Regions from separate parts of the Homo sapiens genome. Here region 2 is linked to region 1. Evidence: fine-mapped QTL for protein levels in blood plasma. A gene starts in region 1. The other region holds a variant in brackets. All regions are shown on one strand. Distances are between the middles of the regions.

Region 1 (16,997 bases):
ATCTGTCCTCAGAGGGAAGAGATAATCACCAGAGGGACCAAGATGTGAGTGGAGAAAGGGCAGGGGAGGGGACGAGGGCCACAGACAGGTGGGTCCCACACCAGACCCTCCCAGGGACACACAAAGTTGTGGAGTTGACTTGGTTGGCCAGAGTCTTAAACTCCAGGGATGTGATCAGGAATCCAAAATGTTTATTTCCATATGGATGGAATAACTGTGCTCTCTAAGTCAGCCCAATGCAGGCCCCTGCCCCACTCCCACTCCACCAGGCCCAGATTCCAGCTGGAACTCCAGATGGTCCCTGAGAGTCTGCAAAGACCAAAGGTCAATTCAGAGCCCTGTCCCCAAAATAAACTGAGCAAAAGTGGATGGGGAGGATGGGTACAGGTGTGTGTCCTGTGAAGCAGAGGACCATGTGCTGCCCAAGGACTTGGGCTCCATCCCACTGGGGGGTCCCAAGAGGAGGCAGAGCAACAAGGTCTAGCCGTGTACCCCTCCCCACTGCCCACCTCTCCCCTCGGCCTCCACCTCCCACATGACCCTGACGCCTACGTGCCCAGGCCTATATGTTGAAAAGGAGCTCAGGTAGAAGCAGGAAGTGCCTCAGCTCTAAAGCACAAAGGCCATCCCGGGTCCAATCCTGTAACATGGTTGGACCACTTATTGGCAGCAGAGAACTCCTAGAGGCCACCACAGATCTCAAGATCCCAAGAGACAGCAGAGGCATGGCCATTTTGGTACCTTTCCCCCACCCTAATGTCACTCCCTAAGATGCAGGAACCCCATCTGGTCTAGCCTTAAGTACCCCAAGTAAGAGGCCTGGTATCCCCAGCATGCGGACGATGGAGATGAGGGTGGGAGCTGCCCCTTCCCTCCCCACCCCTCCAGCGGCTCCCTGCTCTTCCACAGGATGCACTTCCTCCCCTAGAGCCTGCTGCTCCCACCTGGCCTGGGACCACTTTTTCTTTTTTCTTTTTCTTTTTTTTTTTTTTTGAGACAGAATCTTGCTCTGCCGCCCAGGCTGGAGTGCAGTGGTGCAATCTCGGCTCACTGCAGCCTCCGCCTCCCAGGTTCAAGTGATTCTTGTGCCTCAGCCTCCTGAGTAGCCGGCACTACAGGCACGTGCCACCAGGCCCACGTAATTTTTTTGTATTTTTAGTAAAGACTGGGTTTCACCATGTTGGCCAGGCTGATCTCGAACTCCTGACCTCAAGCAATCTGCCCGCCTCAGCCTCCCAAAGTGCTGGGATTACAGGTGTTAGCCACCGCATCAGCCGTGAGGCCACTTTCATAACCCCCAACCAGCTCTCTGGGAAGTCTCCCCGGCTCCCTCTCCCTGGTGTAACGCCCTCAGTCATAAGAGTACCCATGCTTTCAGGGTCCCTGGGGACTCACCCTGCACATCCTGGGGCTGTGTCCATGATTATGGGCAGATGAGAATCGGGGAGACCTTGTAGGTACAGCAGGAGGTGAAGGGCAAGAGGTGAGGAGATCTGGTGGGCAAATCCAGGCGCCCTGTGAAGGACTGTGATATAACTGACCTGAGTTTGCATGGAGGACAGAAAGAAAGAAACAACAGTGGTAGCCAAGGCCTCTGAGGCCAGGGTGCAAGGAGTACCCAGAGAACCCTGCCTGCCCAGGGGCCAGAATCGGCACTCTCCAGGCCTGCCCCCTCTCCCCAGACCTCAGCCAACAGGACGGCATTGCTCTGTGGGAACCTGTGCTCCATGCTGAATATGCACCCCTACTAGAGGCCACTTAGGTACCGGGGGTATAAAACGTAGCTGACCTTCCACACTCACCTTTCCAGCAAAAACAAGAAGGATCTCCATCTTTCTCAAGGGCTTCTTGACCCACCATCTAGCTGGGGGTGAGCCTCCTGCCTCCCCCTACCCCACCCTTTCCCAAGCTCCCTTCCCTCTGCCCTCACTTTACTCTGGCCACCAGGGAGAGGAGGCAGCTCTCAGAGCCTCTGTTCTGTTCCCCGTGGGCAGTGCCCAAGCAGAAGGTCACCAGCATAGCCAGGCCATTGGGTTCATGGACAAATCACTTGCCTCAGAGGCTCTAGAGGAACCTAAAATGCCACCCAAAATTGGGAGGCAGTGCTGCATAGTGGCCAGGCATGAAATGCCACCTATTACTAGCTGCAGGAGTATATACAAATCGCCAGCCTTCAGCAGATGAGCCACATTGGCCAGCCCACAAGGCAACACCAAGAGTATTTCCTTCCTGCTGGGAATTTTGTGAAGATTGCATGCACACTCAGCAGAGGACCTGGAGTGGAGTGCGCCCTGACAGATGCTGGCTATCATTACTTGCACTATTCCCTGCCTCTTCACCTGATGATTGAAATTCTCTTAACTAGAAGCAAAGCCTTGTGTTCTTCAGTTAAGGACAAGGCATCAAGTGCCACTACCCTTGAGGTTACACAGTGACATATTTACACCGAAGTGTAAGTGACACATACCAGAGAATGGGGGCTAGTGTAGCCATCATCTTGCTGTCCAGGCAGGTAAACCATCTGGGGGTGACAAGGATGAAGGGGAGTTGCCTCCCTAAGGGATCCATATCCAGAGTCTCTCATTGCACCCCACCCCCCATCCCCAGAGAAGGGTGCCTGGGCTCCCCGGGACAGCATTGCCCTCCAGAGCCCCTGCTGCAATAGCCACTCTAGCCTTCCCACCCATGGAGAGAAGGCTTCAATGCAGGAGAAAAGGGATGACGCAGGGACAGCTGCCCAGCCCAGTGCCACTGCAGTGATGGCTGCACAGTCATCAGCTCCATCCACCCCTACCCCCCAGCCCTTGGGACCCCCCCCCATCCCCCACAGTACGTACTGCTATCTCATTCAAGGTGCCGGGCACCAGCAGCAGAGGCCACATCCCAGACCTGGACTCCCCAGCCACCAGCTGCAGGTACTGCCACTCTCCCTTAACCCTCCCAGCTACTCCCCTCCTCCCTATGACAGCTGAATACAGGAACCAGCGCCCTCACCCTGCCCTGGAGCTTCCTCATGCTTCCCTCTTCTTGAGAGGCCTCCACCCTCCTGGCCCTGGTCTCCTGCAGGATATCTCACCATCTTTCTTCTTCCTCCTCCTCCTCCTCCTCTTCTTCTTCTTCTTCTAAAATGATTTTTAAAAACACTTCATGAATTTGCATATCATCCTTGCACAGGGGCCATGCTAATCTCTTCTGTATCCTTCCAATTTGAGTATATGTGCTGCTGAAGCGAGCATATCCCATCGCCTTTCTACACCAGCAGAGCTCCAGCTTCCCCTCCATTCATGCCTCAGTATGTGCCCACACCCCTGCCCTACAGATGAGTCATAGATGGAGGGTCTACCTCAATGTGAATGGAACAGTTTTTCTTCCACGCAAGTGTGCATATCCCACACGATTCTGTCTTGCATGCACTTCTTCAATGTACGGTGCGTGTGCCTATTGTCGTGTGGCCTCTCCATCCTCTGTTCTATAGAACTGCTGAGAGCCAGCATCTTCCTTTCCCTCTCTGTACACAGAACAACAGCGGTGGCATCTTCCTTGACCCAGGCAGGTGGCACAATGCAGAGCTAAAGGCACCGCTCGAGGAGTCGTGTAACCTCAGGCGAATTCTTTCACTTCTGTGTGCCTGTGCTCCCTCCCAGGCCTGGTCCCGATCCACCTTCTGTCTTGTCTTTCCCACCTGCTCCTCCTCTTGGATTCCTCTCCCTTCCCGGCTGTTTTCGGAAGAGGCTCGCTCATATCCTTGACCCAGCTGTAAGGAAACTATTGTCACCCTTAATGAAACTAAAGCTTATCCTGCTGGGTCCTCATTGGAGCAAGAACCCACAGGTGAAGGGGCAGCCAGGTGGCAAAGCCCCCACCCCAGCCTGTCTCCCCACCACTCCTTCTTTTCTGAGAAGCACAGGTGGGACAAGGTGGGCCTCTTGAATGAGGGTTTATTAAAGTCTTGGAGGAAACAAAAGGGAAACAGAACAGAGAGTTATACTCACCTTGATTATCTGAGGCACAAATGCAGCCTCAGCCATGAACATATTGAAGGAAGGGATAGTCCAGTATGTAACAGACGCACCCTGCTATTGGCAAGCAAAGCACAGATGGAGTGAATTTAAAGAGTCCTTTACTAAAGGACTTTGTTTCAGGACGAAAGTCCACACAGAGCCCACAGGGTGTGGGAGATCTGAGATCTGGAACTGGGATCTCTGGGCTCTGAACTTGTTCTGTTGGGCAATCTGCTGATGGAGACCTTGTCTTCGAGTGTCAGGATGCACACTGTGGTCAGCTCCCCCTAGGTTGCAAAGGGCATTCTATCTGGGACTTGTCTTCCCTGCCCATCTGCTCTCCTTTTCAACAGCTTCTTGGTTCTTTTGAAACCTATGCTGTCTTCCCAAAGCCCTACCTCCTATTGTGTTGGCCTCCTGTAAGCCATGCTTTCATCTGTCCAGTCCTGCTCTTGGTGGGATGAACGAGAGGCCTCTACAGATCTCAAGGTGGAGGAGGAGAGGGTCAGAGCCCCCAAAGGTACTCTGGATTTGGGTAAATGCACCTGAAATACAACCATACCCAGCAAAAATAACATCCTGCTAGCTGATCGTCTGCACTTATTGTACTAAAATAATACATCTACTTCTATGAGAACCAGCGTCCGAGACAGCCACCAACAATACCTGCTTCCCAGTATTCCTGTCCTTGTGATGTCTCCTTCCACATCGGGTTGTCTGTGTGACCAATGGAATAAGGCAGAAATGATGCTACGTCACTTCCAAGGCTGGCTTATAAAAGACACTGTCACCTCTGCCTTGTTCTTTCCACCTTGGGTCACTCTGGGGAAAGCCAGCTGCTATGCCGCGAGGACACTCAAGCGTCCTATGAGGAGGGCCATGTGGCAGGGAACTGAGGCCGCCTGCCCACATCCATGTGAGTGACCGTCTGGAAGCAGACCTCCAGCCCCAGTCCCGCCTCTGGAGGACTGCAGCCTGCACCTGGACCAAAGCCTTGTGAGAGACCCTGATCCTAAACTACCCATCTCAGCCGCTTCTGGATTCCTGACCCACAGAAACTGTGTGAAATAGTACATACTTGCTGTTTTAAACAAAATGTGGGGGTGACTTTTTACAAGCAGACAGATAACTGCAACATAGTCTCAACCTTGAATTTCATTGCAAATGACCCCATCCTGACCATAACCTCAATATTCGCTAAGTGGGCAGAAGAATGGGGTTGGGGGGTGGGGGCAGTAGATGACTTCGGGCAGTAAAAATGTGTCCAGTCACAAAAAGGCATGACTCCATCCTCAGTGCTCACAGCCCTCCCATCCTAGCTCTAAGCTAGACCCTTCCACGAGTCTAGAGAGTGAAGTTCAGAGGCAGGCAGCTGCCCCCTTTCCCTTCCTCTTTGAGGCCCACCCACCTGAGTCCTGTCTGAGGACTGCCTCTCCCCTAGGTAATTGTTAAAAGGAATGTCCAGCATCTTCAGATGGTACCCTGCTCGTTTCAAAGTTGTGTGACCTTACTCTGTGGCTTCAAAAGGACAAAGACATCAGAATACAACTCAATGCACCTCACGCCATTAGACAGCATGAGTGACAAGCCGCAGGGAGGATATATCAGACAGCACCAGATCTTAGCTGGTAGGAAGCTGATTGACAAGTTCTGTGGAGGACAGAGCAGCAGAGCCCTGAAGTCCACAGCAATAAGGGGAAGATGGTGTTCTAGACACACCAGCAGGGAAGAGCCAAACCTGGATGGTCAGTTTGACCTCCCAGGGTAAGGAGCCTCTGGGTCTTCTCTACCTCTCCCAGGACCACCACAGTGAAACTAGAGCCAGAGGGTTCTTTGCTGAAAAGAGGGTGAGTGAGGTGGAGAGATGCAGATGAGAGGAGGCTTTATGCAGAAGCCATCAGGTTGTGCCATATCTAAAGCCTGGAAAAAGGAGGATACCAGCTGATAGGATTTGGCTCTATGTCCCCAACCAAATCTCATGTGGAATTGTAATCCCCACGTGTTGGAGGAGGGGCCTGGTGAGAGGTGATTGGATCATGGGGGCAGTTTCTAATGGTTTAGTGCCATCCCCCTAGTGCTGTCTCCCGATGGAATTCTCATGAGATCTGGTTGTTTAAAAGTGTGTAGACTTCTCCCTTCTTCTCTTTCTCCTGCTGCCATGTGAAGAAGGTCCTTGCTTCCCCTTCGCCTTCTGCCATGATTATAAGCTTCCTGAGGCCTCCCAGTCATGCTTCCTGTTAAGCCCGCAGAACTGTGAGTCAATTAAACTTCTTCTCTTCATGAATTCCCCAGTCTCAGGTAGTTCTGTACAGCAGTGTGAGAATGGACGAATACAGCAGCGAAGGTGGTACAAGGGCTTTCTGTTCCACTGTGCTCTTCCTGAGTCAGAACCTTTGGGCAGTCCCCAGCCTGCCACCTAGGGACTTCTGCTGCCACCCAGGAGAAGCAGAATGCCCACCAGGCCCAGATCTGCTACCACTTCCAGAAGCCCTGTTACTAAATGATAGGCCCCAGGTGAGGACCAGCCAGGCCCTCTCCAGGGCAGGATCCTTCTCCTTCTACTCACAGAGCTGCTCTCTACAACCAGGTACCAACAGTGAGGAGGCGGTCACGTGGCAATGATCAGGCTTCTCACTAGAGAATAGTAAATGGGGCAGGGCCGTGTTCAGACCCTCAAACTCTACCCAACCCCATCTCCCAGATGCACCTGTCTACCACCTGCTTCTCTTCCTCCCTGCACACCTTGAAAACTCCAAAACCTGGTGCATACTCCCCACTCTGCCCCATCCCAAGAACTCACCCACAGACGCAGGTGGACACCTAGATGTGCTGAGTCCTAGGGCTGCCACAGCCTGCAGGACAAAATTCCTCCCTCAAGGAACCCACAGCCCTGTGGGAAAGACAGACACACGGGCAGGAGGTTATCATGCATCAAGAGTCCATGAGCACAGGGAAAGTCATTTTCTCTGAGTCAAAGAGGGCTTCCCAGAGGAGAGGACACGGGGAGAGAGGTGAGTAAAAATGGCCGGCATCCAGGGCATGAGTACTACATGCCGAACGCTGACTCTTCTCAGGAACCCAAGCACAGGTTATTGTCCCCATTCTACAGATAAGAAAACTAAGGAACAGAGAATTTTAAGTAATTTGCCAAAGGTTATACATGAAATAAAAGACAGAGATGGGATTTGAACCCAAACAGATTGGAGCCTGACCACCCAACCCTCAGTTTCTCCACCTCGCCCCTATTGACGTTCAGGACCAGGTAACATTTTGTTGTGGGACCTGCTGCCTTGTGCACTAGGATGCTTACCAGCATCACTGGCCTGTATCCACTAAATGCCAGTAATGGAAAAAAGAAATCTCTAGATATCATCAAATATCCCCTGGGGAGCAAAACTGCTCCTTGTTGAGTACCACTGATCTAACCATTTTGCTATTCTATTCTGCTTCCTAAGCAAGTAATGATATTTATTGTTTGCCAAATGACAGACACTGCCCTAAGCAATTCTGGTTATTAACTCATTTAACCCTCACACCAACCCTCTGGTGTGGGTACCGTTGTCCTCATCCTTGTTCTTCAGATGAGGATGTTAAGAGGCACAGAGAAATTATGTAAGCTGGCCTTGGTCACCAAACTTTTAAATGGTAGAGCCTGGGTTTAAACCTGGTGAGTGTGGCACACAAGCCCACTCCTTTAAGCAGCATGTTATGCTGATGACTGAAGAACACGGCATTGGTCGGGGAGTCACACATGCAAACGCAAGGCATGTTTGTGAAGCCATAGCATCATGACCGCGCCTGGAACACACATGCGAGGCGGCAGCGGTGGAGAGCGAAGCCAGAAAGTCATGCAGAGCCTGATTATGAAGGAAGAACCTGACGAGACAAACAAGTGGCTGGGGCTTCATCTCATGGATCAGGAGGCACAGTCATTGAAAAGTTTTAACCTGGGAAGGGGCACGATTGATTGAGATTTTAGATACTGGCAGAGTAGGGAGGATGGGCTTAAGGGCTAAACCTAGTGGCTGACACTCCATTGGGGTTGAGCTAGCGACTGCCTAGGTGTCCATAAGGCATGGAAGTCAAGGCCCTGACATGAAAGCCTGAGATAACTTGGGGGTGGAGGAGTGTGACCCATTAGGGTCACCCCTCTGCCCTGGGCTGTCCACATCTCCACTGGCCATGCCAGACAGAAGCAAAGGGTCCCAGTCTGGCTGACTCAGCCGCCTCATCACCCCTGCTGCTCTTCACCTCGCTCCTGTATCTCCCTCCTCACCTGGCACTGGGCACAAAAGCCCCCACGTGTCCCAGCCCAGGGCAAGGTATCTAGAGATAAGACAGGGAAGCTGTGGACAGAAATGGCTCGTGCTGCCCCAGACTCCTCTGCCTGGGCTCTCCTGTGGCTGTTTGGATTCCAGGAGAGGGCAAGCTCCTCTCTAAATGCTGGGGGCTCATGAAGGCTGCAGAGAAACTCCCTGGCCAGGAAGCCCCAAGGCACTTTCTGTTGTCCTGCCCTTCCCCTTTCAGGACAGAAGGGGGCAGCACCAACACGATTTTCAAAAATAAAACCAAAAATAAAGTCACTGGAGCACCCCAACCTTGTTTGCCCAGCTAAGATTGGAAAGACCCATGCCTGGCCTAAGTTTATATGCAAGGACAAAAACTTCTTCATTAATCATGTGGATTAAAGATGCCGATTAAAGGATCCATCCCCTCATTCTCTAATCCTGTCTGGCTCAGAAAGGACCATCTGGTCACAATTATAATTTCAGATACATTTATTTTGTAACTATCAAAGTTATTAAATAATATTAAAGAAGTTTTACTAAACAGAGAAACATGGTTTAAATCATCCACAACCCCATACTCTAATAGGAAGCAGTTATTTTAGATTTTTCTCACGGGTGCTTTCTATATTTGTAAACATAGTATCCTTACAATTTGGTAGCTTGCTACCTTTACTTAGCATGCCAGGAATCCCAGCTCCCTTACCTGCACTTGGGGGCCTTAACATAGAGCAGAGGTGGCCTATGCTCTTTAGGGACACTTGGGTAAGGGAAAGGGAACTGAAGTAAATGATTGAAGTGTTAGCAATAAGGTGACCAACTGTCCTGGCGTGTCGGGGAACTTAACTGGTTTTAGTGTTGAAAACCTCATGTCCTAGGAAAACCTCATTTCTAGACAGACCAGGATGATTTCTAATAGGTTACCCTATTAGAAAAAAGTCCCCCCAAATTCAGACATCCATTTTCATTTCTACATCGGCCTTTCAGCTATACTTCTTTGCTTTTTTCTACTAGTAGTCACCCTAGGGCAACTGTTCTCAAACTTTATACCCTTAAAAAATTATTGAGAACTCCAGAGAGCTTTGGCTTATGTAGGGTATATCTATTAATAGTCACTGTACTAGAAATCAAAATTGAGAACATTTTAAATCACAAAGATACACAAGCACGCATCCCGCTCACTGCCACGGATGAATCATTGCACATCACGTAGCCTCTGTAAATCCACCATATACCATGACAGAATGAGAGGGAAAAAAGCAAAGAACATCTGAGTATTTTTATGAAAGTCATTTTGTTACCTCACAGACCCCGTGAAAGGATCTTAGGGCCTGTGGGTCTTCCCACACCACAGGGTGGAGACCCGCTGCTCTGGGAATTAGTCTGCATCCTAAACTCCAGTTTTCTCAGTTCCTATTGTACCACTTCATGTGAAATGAAGGAAACTTGTAACCATGAGTCCACCCCCTTGTCCTCTATACCAGCAGTCCCCACCCTTTTTGGCACAAGGGACTGGCTTCATGGAAAACGGTTTTTCCACAAACCAGGGATGGGGCCAGAGGGAGATGGTTTCAGGATAGTTCAAACACATTACATTCATTGCATGTTTTCTTTCTATTATTATTGTTATTGTAATATATAATGAAATATTAATAATTATACAACTCACCGTAATGTAGAATCAGTGGGAGCCCTGAGCTTGTTTTCTTGCAACTAGACGGTCCCATCTAGGGGTGATAGGAGACAGTGACAGGTCACCAGGCATTAGATTCTCATAAGGAGCACACAGCCTAGATCCCTCCATGCATAGTTCACAATAGGGTTCGTGCCCCTATGAGAATCTAATGCTGCTGCTGCTGCTGCTGCTGACAGAAGACGAAGTTCAGATGGTAATGTGAGTGATGGGAAGCAGCTACAAATACAGATGAAGCTTTGCTTGCTCACCACCACTCACCTCCAATACTGGTCCACGGCTCAGGGGTTGGGGACCCCTGCTTTATACTACAGTCTTCATATATGTTACAGCTACATATGTTATAAACCTCACAATACAATGTTATAATTTTTGCCTGGAACAGTTCTACATATTTTAAAGACATTAAAAAGAAAATCGTATTTTATATTTACCTTCAAATTTACCGTTCTTCTTATTCCTGTCTGCAGCTCTGCTCTTCCAATTTGAGACAGCGTCTCACTCTGTCACCCAAGCTGGAGTGCAGTGGCACCGTCATGGCTCACTGCAGCCTCCATCTTCCGAGCTCAAGCAATCCTCCCACCTTGGCCTCCCAAAATGCTGGGATTATAGGCGTGAGCTATCGTGCCCGTCCTAAAGAACTTTCTTTAGCGCTTCTCATAGTGGAGGTCTGCTGGCGACAAGAATCTCTGTTTTCTTTTATCTGAAAATAGCTTTATTTCATCTTCATTCTGGAAGAATACTTTCACTAGAAAAACAATTCTGAGTTGACTTTTTTTTTCCTTCAGCATTTTAGAGATATTCCACTGTCTTCTGGTCTATATTGGTTTTGATGAGAAAAGAGTGACATTGAAAATATTGTTCTGTCTAGTCTTTAGGATGGGATTAAAAAAAAGAAAAGATTTTCTCTTGTCTTTGGCTTTTAGCAGTTTGACCATGATGTGCCAAGGCATGCCCTTTTTTTCATTGACCACTCTGCCAGTTAGAGACGAGGTCCCAGTGTAGGGGAGGTGGTGCTGAAAACACAGCGGGGCACAGCTCAGCCCTAGCCCACAGGGGCCTGCAGTGACCAGCTATGCACAGAGCCATCAGCTCCTTCTCCAGTCTCACATCACCAGCCATTCCTCCCCTTGCCCTTGACCCTAACTCATGCTGCAGCCGCACACGCCACCTAGGTGAGACCAAGGTGGGCCCTCATCTTCAGAGTGCTGGATTACCCCAAACAGGGACCACATCCAGACCCTGGACTGCCCAGTCACCTGGGGCTGCCGGTGCATCACTGCCTCCCCACCCTCTTGGCTCCCTGTCCTCTTTCTCACCCAGCCTCACTCCAGCACTTTAACCCCTATCCATTTAGGGTGACCACCAGTCCTGGCTTGCCCAGAACTTCCCTCATTTTAAAACGGAAAGCCTCATGTCCTGGGAAACCCGTCGGTCCCACGCAAATCAGAACAGTCGGTCACCCTACCTGTCCTGGAGTTTCCTTCCAAGGCCTTACTCCTCCCTCCTCCAGCTCATCTCCAGGAAAGTCTTCTCAGATGGGCTAGCCTGAGTTTTCCAGTTCCTGCCCCTCTTAGCAAACAAGGAAATAATGCTCTGAAGGGAAACGAGGGGTGGACTCCCCAATCCTGATCTGAGTCTTGGCTGGTTTCTTCTTAACACATGGGTCTTGGGATTGGTACCATTGTTCACTCTTTGGCTGCATCTCTGGCTCCCAAGGTGCTCCAGGTGACCCTAAGAGTTCTATGAGAGAGCAGGTTTCAGTGGTCTCAGGGGAGGAAAGAAGTCCTAGTCAGAGAGGCCCACTCCTCGAAGATGGGTATGGGAGATCATCCCCAGTTGTGTTTGGGGTTGGGGTGTGGCAGACAGGTAGGCTTGATCTCAAGACTGTACCTGAGACATTGCATCTGTCCTGGCCATCACTCTCTTATCATCTCCTTGTAGCCATAGACTGTGGCTCTCCTAAATCTCTCTAGCCTAGAAAAACCAAAGATGCAGAGCACACCCTGTTTGGGTCTGTAACTTGCCTCCATATTACTATATGCAAAATGGGGGAAGCAATAGATTCTTCTCTGAGAGGTGTGTGTGCGCGCGCACATGCATTTGTGTGTGCATACAACGTAAGGCCTTCCACACACCTGCCTTCTCTGAGGATGGGACCACCCATCTCCATAAGAGCCTTCTGGCCTCCTACCAAGCTGTGGGTGAGTGTCCTTCCTCGGGGAGCGGTGAGAGCAGGCAGGGGCTCTAGTATCTGCCTAAAGAAGCTTGAGTGACGGCTTGAGTGATGACTGGGACTAGGGACTGAGGGACACCTGGGCTCGACCCCAGCCCTGACCATGCTGGACAAGCAGCCTCCAGAGGTTGTGAATAGGATTCAAAAGACCACCTAAGCGCATGTCCCCCACCCCTGCTTGGGGAGGAGGGAAAGGAAGAGAAAGCTCAAGTTCAAGGATCACAAACTTCAATTCTACAAGAGGGAGGCTCCCCGGGTATGTCGTGAACGGAAAGGTCGGGGAGGAAGAGACATGGCTGATTGAAGGCAGCAGCCATAACTCACAAGGAGCCATCCTACACACATGGCAAAAATTAATGTTAAATAGTACAAAAGGGTCGAGTCAGTGCCCTGCCACCCTGACCTCTGAGGGCCAGCGAGGTTTTTGGACGTTTCTCCCCTAAGCTGCGGCGGGCCCGCTGTTCCTGAGTCAGACGGCAGGTGGCGCTCAGCCCGGAGAATTGGAGAAGGGGAACTGTGGAGTTGCTTAACATTTCCAGGAACTTCCTCCTCCCCCACCGGCCTTCACCTTTTGTTCCCTATCCTGGGCCAGTTCTCTCGCAGGTCCCAGATGTCCAGTTCCAGATGCCTGGACCCAGAGTGTGGGGGAAATATCTCTGGAGAAGCCCTCACTCCAAAGGCTGTCCAGGCGCAATGTGAGTGTGGCCCCGGCAGAGGAGGAGGGAAGAGGACGGGAGGGGAAGAGAAAGGGTGGGTGGCCGCAAACCCTCCCTCCCCCCACCCTACCCCCCCCACACACACATCCCCCCCCCCCCCACACACACACACACACACACACCTCCCCCACATACACACACCAGCAGCAGCAGCAGCAGCAGCACAGCAGATATTCCATGGGGAGACTGAAATTTGCCTGTGGCCTCTAGCACCTTCCCAGAGGGTGGTCGGGGGATATTTACGGCAGACCCTCACTCGCCCCACCATTGCTCCCTCGGATCCCAGGGTGGGGTGGGATCTGCTGAAGCAGAAAGCACCCCCCTCCTTTGGACGAGACTCTCCTGGGAGATGAGCAAAGGTGATGTCTTCGGAGGATGGAAAACCCACAATCCTAGAGCTCAGGCTGCGCGGGAGGCTGTAGGGATTGGGGTGAGGAAGGGGAGCAAGGGAGGAGACGGGAAGTGCCCGGGCCTCAAGGGTGAGGCCACAGCTTCTAGCCCTGCCTCGCGAGGCCTCTGAGTCCTAGCGCGGCTCCCCCGCTCCTCCCACACCCACAGGCTTCCGGCCATAGCTGCGCGGCCCCACCTTGCCCTCCCCCCAACTCACAGGTGGTGGCTGCTTCTCTGGGGAGTCCTCCAGGCTTGCCCAACCCGGGGCTCCGTCCTCTTGGCCCAAGAGCTACCCCAGCAGCTGACATCCCCCGGGTACCCAGAGCCGTATGGCAAAGGCCAAGAGAGCAGCACGGACATCAAGGCTCCAGAGGGCTTTGCTGTGAGGCTCGTCTTCCAGGACTTCGACCTGGAGCCGTCCCAGGACTGTGCAGGGGACTCTGTCACAGTGAGCTGGGGATGGGGGGGGTCCCGCCAGGACTGTGGCCAGGGAGATTCCCGGGGTTGTGGGAAGTGGCGGTGCCCTGAATCCCCCATCTGGAGGAGGGATGAATTTTCCATGTAGGGGCAGTCGGGCTTGGCTTACCGGGGAGCAGTGGTGGACCCCAGGACACAGCCTCCCACCAGCGCCTCCGGGGCTGCCATCTGGGCCCCACAGAGCAAAGAGGGCAGCAAGCAGGCCCTGCGTTTGGAAGGCTTATGAATGGACACACAAATCTTGCAAATCTATGGAGCCAGGGGCAGGGACGCACATATTGGTTGTTAAAAATATGTCATCATGTATTTGTTGAGTGCCTGCTCTATCAGGTGAGGAAGCTGGACACAAATAATAACAAAAGATTAAGTCACCGTTCACACTTACCTTGGAAGAGCTATTACAAAACTTCTAACGCCAAAGCCTTATTCAGAATAAGGACATTTTAAAAACAGTACTTGATGGAGTGATGCAAGCTTGCAGTCCCAGCAGTATAGTCAGGAGACTGAGGCTGGAGGATCAGAGGGCTGGAGCCCAGGGTTCAAGGCCAGCCTAAGCAACATAGCAAGACCCCATCTCAAAAATAAGTAAATAATAAATAAAAATAAAAAGAGCACATTATCTTTTGATTTAAATTTTATTTATATCAAAATGACATAAATTTTTGAACTTTATTTTTTAATTTTAAAATTTTTAATTATTATGGATACATAATAGTTGTAAGACTTTTTGTTTTTTAATTAAAGTTTTCTAAGGCTGGGCGCAGTAGCTCATGTCTGTAGTCCCAGCACTTTGGGAGGCTGAGGCGAAAGAAGCACTTGAGCCCAGGAATTTGAGACCAGCCTGGGCAACATAGCAAGACCCCATCTCTACAAAAAAATTTAAAAATTAGCCAAGTGTGGTGGCACGCACCTGTGGTCCCAGCTACAAGGGACGCTGAAGTGAGAGGATCACTTGAGCCTGGAAGGTAGAGGCTGCAGTGAGCTCTGATCATGACACCGTACTCCAGCCTGGGTGACAGAGTGAGACCCTGTCTCCAAAAAAAAAAAAAGGTTTTTAAAAAGGTTTATGAATAACAGCAGTCTCCAAGCTGTTCCTCCCCGCCCCTGAGTGCTGCTCCTCAGGAGCAGTCATTTGCCAATTCATGTAGCTGTTTCATCTGGTCTTTAACTTCATATGTATAAATAACATGCTTATTTGTCTTTCATTTTTACGTATTTTCTATTAATGCTCAACTACAGTATAGAAGATAAGGACTAGCTTTATCTGTCTTCAGTCTTCACCACCCACATTTCCCCTCCTCATTCTGCCAGTTTACCTATATTATCATTTTTAGTTAAATCTTTATTCATTATTTACATTATTATGACTGTAAAATATTCACATCTGAGCACATAGCATAAAATAATTATATTTCTTTTCTTCTCCAACTTTTGGGTTTCCTAGGAGTCAATAGTTACATGGAGTTTTTTTGTTTTGTTTTGTTTTGTTTTTTGGTGGGGGGTGTTTGTTTTTGTTTTGCTTTTTAGTTTGCTTAGTTGTCTCTGTAACTAATCTCACCAGACTCTTAACCAGGAGTGTAAATCTTCTTCTGAAATACTCAAGCATGAATTTCAGTCTATCGGTCCTCCTTTTAATTGGTGACATCCCTCCTGAAGATCTCTCGATTTATTTTCACAGCCTGAGTTCTTTGCTCTCTAAGCCGTCACACATTCTGGGAGTTCTCTTCTCCCTCTTTCTGGGGATTTCCTTTACCTGTGCTGAACCTGAATCCCATACCTTTCTCTTTTTTGGTTTACTCTCCCATTTTGGAGGAGCACCTTCACCAGTGGCTTCCTTAGAAAGGGTATTTTAGAGTGAATTTTAGAAGATCTTATATATGTCTAAATGTCTCAGTTCTACCCTCACAGTGGAGGGATAGTTGATCTGGGTATAGCATTCTAGATTGGAAACCTTTTTCTTCCAGAATTTTGATGATATTGTCTTCTAGGTCTAGACTTTGTTAAGAAGTTTGATGCCCTTATCATTCCTAATCCTTTGTTTTCTCTCTCTAGAACTTTTGGAATATTTTCCTTATTACCAGTATTCTGGACTTTCATTATGATGTCTCTTGATACACGTGGTTTTTTACTCATTGTGCAGATTTCTTTTAATCTAGAGCCTCTTTTAATCTAGTCCTTCAATTCTAGGAATGTTCTTGTGCTATTTTTTAAATAATTTCCAGATATCTCATTTCCTTAGTTTCTCTTTCTCCTATAATTCAGCTGTTGTATGTTCTAGATTGATTCTCTAGCTTTGTTATCTGTTTTGTTCTATTTACCATCTCTTTTGTTCTGCCTCCTGGGAAATTTTCTCATCTTTAAATCCCCATCTTTTAGTTAATGGTTTCTTTCCACTGACATATTATTTCATTTCTAAGGATTCGTTCTAATTTTCTAAATGTGCCTTTTTATAGAGTATTGTTCTTGTTTCATTGATGCAGTATCAACTCCTTTCCCTCCTTTGGGATTATTTTTAGATGTTTCTTCTGTTCTCTATAGTGGGTCTATTTCATCCAAGTTCTTTTTTACCGTTTGTCTGTTTTGGTCTCTGCTTTTTGTGTTAGAGACTTTCCTACGATATCTGATAATACTTGGCTGTCCATTCATATTTAAGGCCGGGCGCAGTGGCTCACATCTGTAATCCCAGCACTTTGGGAGGCCGAGGCAGGCAGATCACCTGAGGCCAGGAGTTTGAGACCAGCCTGGCCAACATGGTGAAACCCCGTCTCTACTAAAAATACAAAAATTAGGCAGGCATGGTGGTGTACGCCTGTAATCCCAGCTACTTGGGAGGCTGAGGCATAAGAATCGCTTGAACCTGGGAGGTGGAGGTTGTAGTAAGCCGAGATCAGGCCACTGCACTACAGCCTGTGGGGTGCAGAGTGAGTCTCTGTCTCAAGGAAAAAAAAAAAAGAGTGGAGCACTAAAATACTGATTGGAAGTTCTGTGTGGATAGCTAAAATTTGTCAAATGATAGGTTTGAAAATAGGGTTATCGACAAGGTGACCTAGATGTGCCACTGGGGGCCTCCCAACTGTCAGGATGTAAAAGCATTTTATTTGGGGGCAGCCAGTTTCCCCTGAGAGGACTCCTGCAGATTCCAGCTCAGGGACCCCAGCATTCTGGTCAACAAGCTGAGAAAAGGGCCTGGTGGAGGGA
Region 2 (8,000 bases), 15 kb after region 1:
GTAGGCTAAAGAAACATTGTAGTATGTGGTTATGTCTGGAAGAAACTCAGGCGTCAATAATGGAACCAGAAGCTAGTTGAGGAAGCCTCTGTGAGGTGCCTTCTGAGCCCCAGAGGGGCACGGCCCGTCTAGATGGGGCAGGAGTCACACCGAGGATGTGCCCCTGTGATGCCAGCAGCGCGGATTCACCCCACACCTATCTGCAGCCTCACTCCTCCTCCCGCTTTCAGATCTCATTCGTCGGTTCGGATCCAAGCCAGTTCTGTGGTCAGCAAGGCTCCCCTCTGGGCAGGCCCCCTGGTCAGAGGGAGTTTGTATCCTCAGGGAGGAGTTTGCGGCTGACCTTCCGCACACAGCCTTCCTCGGAGAACAAGACTGCCCACCTCCACAAGGGCTTCCTGGCCCTCTACCAAACCGTGGGTGAGTGTCCCTCCTGGGGGTGCAGGGAGGGAGCCTCTGTTCCCAGCCATGACCCTGGTATCTTCAAGCCTTAAGTGGAAGCTTGAGTGACAGCTGAGGCTGGGGACTCAGGGACACCTGGGCTGGATCCCAGCCCTGCCCCTGCTGGCAAGCAACCCTATTAAGAGACAGCCGTAGCTGAGCCCCCAGCGGTTGTTTCCATGCAGATTTACAGGCCCAGTGTTTGCAGATCATCTCATTTTTAAAGAGATGCCAAAAATCCAGATTTTTAAGTAAAATTATAAATTTTCAAATGATGACTCAGATTTGTTTTTGAAAGATAAATACTGGCTGGAGGCAGTGGTTCATGCCTGTAATCCCAGCACTTTGGAAGGCCAAGGCTGGAAGATTGCTTGAGGCCAGTAGTTGGAGACCAGCCTGGGCAACATAGTGAGACCCCGTTTCCACAAAAAAAATTAAAAATTAGCCAGGCATGGTGGTGCACACCTGTAGTACCAGCTACTCAGGGACTGAGGGGGAGGATTGCTTGAGCCAGGGAGTTTGAGGCTGCAGTCAGCCACAATCATGCCACCGCACTCCAGCCTGGGAGACACGGAGAAACTAGAAGAGAGAAAGAGAGGAAGAGAGGAAGGAAGGAAGGAGGAAAAGGGAGAGGGAAGGGAAGGGAGGGAAGAAAGCGAGAAAGGAGAAAGAGGGAAAGAAAGAAGGGAGGGAGGGAGAGAGGGAAAGTAAGAAGGGAAGGAAGGAAGGAGGGAGGGAGGGAGGGAAGAAGGAGGGAGGGAGGGAGGGAAGGAAGGAGGGAAGGAGGGAAGGAAGGAAGGAAAGGAAGGAAGGGTGCACATGATAAAATATCATTTTTTTAAGTATGCTAAAAAGTAAGTCTTCCTCTGATCTCTGGCTCTTAACTCCTGGCTGCCCTCCCCAGAAACAACTGTGTTCTCCATTTCCTGGATATTCTTCCCGGGAAGAGGATAAATTGTGTGTGTCTATATTGCAAGTGTTCTAAACGTGGTATTTTTCTACTGAATAATATATCTTAAAGATCATCCCATTCCATATGGACAGCACTAACTCATTTATTTTTTATTTTTTATTTTATTTATTGTTTTTTGAGACAGAGTCTCGCTCTATTGCCCAGGCTGGAGTGCAGTGGCGCAGTCTCTTCTCATTGCAACCTCTGCCTCCTGGGTTCAAGCGATTCTCCTGCCTCAGCCTCCTGAGTAGCTGGGATTATAGGTATGCCACCACACCCAGCTAATTTTTGCATTTTTAATAATGGTTTCACCTTGTTGGCCAGGCTGGTCTCAAACTCCTGACCTCAGGTGATCTGCCTGCCTCAGGCTCCCAAAGTGCTAGGATTACAGCCGTGAGCCACCGCACCTGGCGAACTCATTATTTTTAATGACCACATAAAATCTCCTTGATTGATGTGTCATAATGTATTTCATCAGCCCTCCTGATAGATACTTTGCTGCCACACATGGTGCTACTGTGCATATCCTTGCATTTACATCTTTGAGCACATGTGTGAGAATATCTTTAGACTAAATTTTTAGAAATGGAGTAGGTTAAAAAATATTTGCATTTTAAATTTTGATATTGCTAAAATTTTCTCCAAAACGGTTTTGCTAATTTACATACCTATCAAACATATATGGAAGTGCCTGTTCCCCCCTACCCTGCTTGTCACAGTTATCTTCAAACTCTTTGAGTGTTGTCAATCTGATCAGTGAAAACGAACTCAAATGTTTTAAAAAAACTAAAAATAAAAAATAAAACACTGTGCAAGTCAAACCAAGTATAGCCATGGGCCAGAATCAGCCCCTGGGTTGCCAGTTGGCAAGTCTGTGCTAGGTGCTGTTTTCCTATAGCTGTGAACTATAGTCAGCCCATCAGCGAGGCCAGCAGGGGCTCTGAGGCCATCAACGCACCTGGAGACAACCCTGCCAAGGTCCAGAACCACTGCCAGGAGCCCTATTATCAGGCCGCGGCAGCAGGTGAGTCCCCACCTGCCGAGGGGTGGCTTCCATCCACCTCATTCCCACCCAAATGCCTGACACCCTCTGAGCACCTGCTTCGTTAACCAACAGCTTCAACTCCGAGCCTATTTCTTTGCCTCTCCTCATTTACGCCACAGGGGCACTCACCTGTGCAACCCCAGGGACCTGGAAAGACAGACAGGATGGGGAGGAGGTTCTTCAGTGTATGCCTGGTGAGTAGCCACCTGCTAGCACCATTCCCCCAACAAGCCTCAGCTGCAACTGGGACCTACAGGACACAGGGGTTAAAGGAAAGCCTTAGAATAGAAAGGAAGATAAGAAGCAGAAGGTGAGGAAGAACAGGGCAATCAAGAAGGCCCAGAAAAGAACAGGCAGGGAGCTTGTTCCTCATTCTTCAGGGGTCAAGATATATCTGAGGAAAAGCATGAAGGACGTTCATGAGATGGACTAGAAAAGGAGGAAGAGAGACCAACAAGCTGAAGTAACAGAAAACCCTCTTTTTGTGCCATACATTTTAAGGATATACCGACAGGCTCTCTATTCCTAAAATATCTCCCTACCTAGATGCCACACAGTGCCAGACAGTCAACCATTTTAAAAAAAATTATTGAGATAAAATTCATGGCTGGGCGCAGTGGCTCACTTTTTTTTTTTTTTTTTTTTTTTTTTTTTGGGATGGAGTTTCTCTCTTGTCGCCCAGACTGAAGTGCAACGGCACAATCTTGGTTCACTGCAACCTCCATCTCCTGGGTTCAAGCGATTCTCCTGCCTCAGCCTCCTGAGTAGCTGGGATTACAGGCACCTGCCACTATGCCCAGCTCATTTTTTTATTTTATTTTATTTTTTTTTTTTTTTTGTATTTTTAGTAGAGACAGGGTTTCACCACGTTGGTCAGGCTGGTCTTGAACTCCTGACCTCAGGTGATCGTCCCGCCTCAGCCTCCCAAAGTGCTGGGATTACAGGCTTGGGCCACTGCGCCCAGCCTTAACCACTTTAAACAGTACAATCCAGTAATGTTTAGTGTGTTCACAATGTTGTGAAACCATTACCACTAATTCCAGAACATTTCCATTACCTTCCCCAAAACAGCCCAGTACCTCCAACTCTCCCCTGACAACCACTAATCTTCTATCTCTATGGATTTGCCTTTATGGATTTTATATCAGTGGAATCATATAATGTGTGGCCATTTCTGTCTGGCTTCTTTCAGTTAGCGTAATGTTTTCAAGGTTCATTCCTGTTATAGCATCCATCAGTATTTCATTTTTATGGCTAAATAATACTCCTTTCTATGGATACGCCATTTTGTTTATTCATTCAACTGATGGACATTTGGGTTGTCTCTATTTCTTGCCTATTATGAATGATGCTGCTATGAGCATTTGTGTACAAGTTTTTATATCAACGTACGTTTCTAAATCTCCTGGGTATATACCTAGCAGTAGACTTGCTGGATTGTATAATAATTCTGTTTAACTTTTTGAGGAACCACCAAACTGTCTTCAACAGCAGCAGCACCAAGTTACATCTCACCGGCAATACATGAGGGTTCAAGCCCACCATTTTTGAGATCCACGCTTTTGAATGAAAGCATTGCCTTCTTTTGTTTTGTTTGTTTGTTTGTTTTGAGACAGAGTCTCGCTCTGTCGCCCAGGCTGGAGTGCAGTGGCGCGATCTCGGTTCACTGCAAGCTCCGCCTCCCGGGTTCAAGCCATTCTCCTGCCTCAGCCTCCCGAATAGCTGGGACTACAGGCGCCCGCCACCACGGCCGGCTAATTTTTTTTTGTATTTTTTAGTAGAGACGGGGTTTCACCGGGTTAGCCAGGATGGTCTCGATCTCCTGACCTCGTGATCCGCCCATCTCGGCCTCCCAGAGTGCTGGGATTACAGGCGTGAGCCACCGCGCCCGGCCGAAAGCATTGCCTTCTTAACCCAATCTGATCCACGGAAAACTCTAAGGGTAGCCTGAACACTCGCAGTGCTTTGGGGATGGTTTGGAGGGCAGGTGGTAGTGGGAGATGTTACAAATGAGGAAGTGACACAAAACTGAGGCAGGAGGCACTGAAACAGACTCTGCCTGTAGTATGGGGGCCCAGGATGGTCCAAACGAATGGCTTTAATGCCTCTGAGGAGGCAGGAAGGAGAGCCCTGCAGAACCAGCCCCAAACATGTGCTCATCTGTGCTCCCTACCCTCAGTCCACTGTCCTGAGTCCCATGCAGGATGGGTGCCCCGTACACTTGGCATTGATTACCTGTCCTTGTCTGCCCACATGGTCTACACCGTGGGTCTGCATCAGTATAAGAGTCCTGATCCCGGCCAGGCGCGGTGCCTCACGCCTGTAATCCCAGCACTTTGGGAGGCAGAGGCGGGTGGAACACTGAGGTCAGGAGTTTCAGA[C/T]CAGCCTGGCCCACATGATGAAACCCCGTCTCTACTAAAAAATACACAAAAATTAGCCGGGCGTAGTGGTCGGTGCCTGTAATCCCAGCTACTCGGGAGGCTGAGGCAGAATTGCTTGAGCGCAGGAGGCGGAGGTTGCAGTGAGCCGAGATCGCGCAAGTACGCTCCAGTCTGGGCAACAAGAGCGAAACTCGATATCAAAAAAAAAAAAAAAACGTCCTGATCCCAGAGTCTCTTCACGCGTCCCCTACCACAGCACTTCAGAGAAGCAGGTCTTTAATCAGTGTGTCTAGATGCAGCTGCTGACTGTCACCCCTACCCCGCCTCTCTCCCAGTCTGCGGACGGCCAGTCACCCCCATTGCCCAGAATCAGACGACCCTCGGTTCTTCCAGAGCCAAGCTGGGCAACTTCCCCTGGCAAGCCTTCACCAGTATCCACGGCCGTGGGGGCGGGGCCCTGCTGGGGGACAGATGGATCCTCACTGCTGCCCACACCATCTACCCCAAGGACAGTGTTTCTCTCAGGAAGAACCAGAGTGTGAATGTGTTCTTGGGCCACACAGCCATAGATGAGATGCTGAAACTGGGGAACCACCCTGTCCACCGTGTCGTTGTGCACCCCGACTACCGTCAGAATGAGTCCCATAACTTTAGCGGGGACATCGCCCTCCTGGAGCTGCAGCACAGCATCCCCCTGGGCCCCAACGTCCTCCCGGTCTGTCTGCCCGATAATGAGACCCTCTACCGCAGCGGCTTGTTGGGCTACGTCAGTGGGTTTGGCATGGAGATGGGCTGGCTAACTACTGAGCTGAAGTACTCGAGGCTGCCTGTAGCTCCCAGGGAGGCCTGCAACGCCTGGCTCCAAAAGAGACAGAGACCCGAGGTGTTTTCTGACAATATGTTCTGTGTTGGGGATGAGACGCAAAGGCACAGTGTCTGCCAGGGGGACAGTGGCAGCGTCTATGTGGTATGGGACAATCATGCCCATCACTGGGTGGCCACGGGCATTGTGTCCTGGGGCATAGGGTGTGGCGAAGGGTATGACTTCTACACCAAGGTGCTCAGCTATGTGGACTGGATCAAGGGAGTGATGAATGGCAAGAATTGACCCTGGGGGCTTGAACAGGGACTGACCAGCACAGTGGAGGCCCCAGGCAACAGAGGGCCTGGAGTGAGGACTGAACACTGGGGTAGGGGTTGGGGGTGGGGGGTTGGGGGAGGCAGGGAAATCCTATTCACATCACTGTTGCACCAAGCCACTGCAAGAGAAACCCCCACCCGGCAAGCCCGCCCCATCCCAGACAGGAAGCAGAGTCCCACAGACCGCTCCTCCTCACCCTCTACCTCCCTGTGCTCATGCACTAGGCCCCGGGAAGCCTGTACATCTCAACAACTTTCGCCTTGAATGTCCTTAGAACCGCCTTCCCCTACTTCATCTGTTGACACAGCTTTTATACTCACCTGTGGAAGAGTCAGCTACTCACCCGCTATTAGAGTATGGAGGAAGGGGTTTTCATTGCATTGCATTTCTGAAACATTCCTAAGACCCTTTAGTTGACCTTCAAATATTCAAGCTATTCTGCAGCTCCAAGATGCAATTATAGAAACAGCTCCTTTTTTATTTTATGTCCTCTATATGCCAGGTGCTTCACCTGTTATTTCACTTAATCCTCATACCATATTTGCAAAGGATGTGTTATTATCTATGTGTGACAAATGAGGAAACTGAGGCTCAGGGGATAAAGGGACTTGCCCAAGTCCCACAGCTGGTGTGTGACTGCAGAGACTGTGCTCTTCCCAGTGTGCTGCAATACTTCTCAACCCTCCTCTAACCTGCTGTGTCACCCGCTTTCCCTCCCAGCCCCCACATCCTTACCATTTTCCCTCCCTGGGAATTCCTGCTTCTGCGAAAATGGTATCCTCTAGCTCACACTTTCCTAATGGCCCCATCTCCTGCAGAAGCCAGGTGAGCCCAGCACTGGACTGAAGTTCTTGCAGACACCCCACCTGTGCCCCTATCATCAGGGGAACTGCTCCACCTGAGAGGACCAACTCTTTAATTTTTAGTAAAACCTGGAGGTGATGGGCCGGGCGCAGTGGCTCACGCCTGTAATCCCAACACCTTAGGAGTCCGAGGTGGGTGGATCACGAGGTCAGGAGATCCAGCCCATCCTGGCCAACATGGTGAAACCCCATCTCTACTAAAAATACAAAAATTAGCCGGGCGTGGTGACACGTGCCTGTAGTCCCAGCTACTCGGGAGGCTGAGGCAGGAGAATCACTTGAACCTGGGAGGCGGAGGTTGCAGTGAGCTAAGATCACGCCACTGCACTCCAGCCTGCGGACAGACCAAGACTTCATCCCCCCCAAAAAAAAAAGATTGGAGGTGATTTACAGTGAAAGACACAAATAAAATACAACTGTTCAATGGAAATAGAAAATAAACACCATAAAAGAGAGAAGAGAGGTAATTTGTTAGCATCAAGAGTCAAGTTGCTATATGGTCAAAGGTTAAATTTATCTCTAAAAAATGGCAGGATTCAAAGTTGTACATACATGTGATTACTTCTGTTTTTTACACCCACATACAGTACAAAAGATTATTAAAAATATTCCCAAAAGGCAGGTGCAATGATGCACACTTATACCCCCAGCCACTCAGGAGGCTGATGCAAGAGGATCGCTTGAGCCCAGGAGTTGAAGTCCAGCCTAAGCAACATAGTGAAACCCCATCGCCAAAAATATAATAATAATTCTCTCAAAATACTAAACAGAGGTGGTTTTATTGATAAGATTTTGGCTGTTTGGTTTTCCACTATTCTCTATTGGCTAAAATTTGTTTAATGAGCATGAAATGTTTTTATTTTATTTTGCTTATTTTTATGATTGCAAAAAATGATATGAGTTTCTCCCTGCCAAGGCAAAAAAATATATATATACCTATATTTATATGTGTATGTCTAGATCTATATCTCTACATCTCCATCGCTGTCTCTGTCTAGAGATAGAGATATCGACAATGAGAGAGAGAGGGAGGTAAGAGATAGAGATGATGGAGATAGATGAGCTAGCGATAGAGACATATCCACAGAGGAAAACCTACCACTACTTTAAGAGAGAAATCTTTTTCCCAAGAATCAAATCCTTAAAGGAACAAACACTGTAACCGACTATATCCTCA

Evidence for each region. A credible set is the group of variants that fine-mapping cannot tell apart. PIP is the posterior inclusion probability: the model's chance that the variant is causal. The UK Biobank Pharma Proteomics Project read protein levels with antibody pairs (Olink). The fine-mapping took linkage between variants from a reference panel, not from the people measured, so its PIPs are less certain.
Region 2: its variant is the best candidate, but not a certain one, in a credible set for the plasma level of the C1RL protein (UK Biobank, PIP 0.60).

The regions. Positions count from the first base shown.
Region 1 is chr12:7,105,024-7,122,020 of GRCh38, reverse strand. C1RL (complement C1r subcomponent like) reads left to right here and starts at 12,807. Exons shown (of 6, transcript NM_016546.4): 1 at 12,807-12,911; 2 at 13,542-13,770. The coding sequence starts at 12,841. It overlaps C1RL-AS1 (C1RL antisense RNA 1), which reads right to left and starts at 13,713. Exons shown (of 12, transcript NR_026947.1): 1 at 13,540-13,713; 2 at 13,074-13,348; 3 at 11,874-11,957; 4 at 11,449-11,723; 5 at 10,415-10,996; 6 at 9,957-10,014; 7 at 6,802-6,891; 8 at 3,344-6,635; 9 at 2,995-3,122; 10 at 2,468-2,521; 11 at 1,396-1,515; 12 at 170-309. It also overlaps a transcript of RBP5 not described here and the pseudogene RNU6-485P. RefSeq lists enhancers at 8,253-8,754, 12,866-12,945, 13,586-13,755, 12,588-13,787.
Region 2 is chr12:7,094,318-7,102,317 of GRCh38, reverse strand. It overlaps C1RL (complement C1r subcomponent like), which reads left to right. Exons shown (of 6, transcript NM_016546.4): 3 at 231-420; 4 at 2,292-2,417; 5 at 2,558-2,632; 6 at 5,155-7,764. The coding sequence ends at 5,927. Among named protein-coding and RNA genes, the nearest start is that of C1R, 5.9 kb to the right of the region's middle. The variant C/T (reference allele first, on the strand shown) is at 4,820.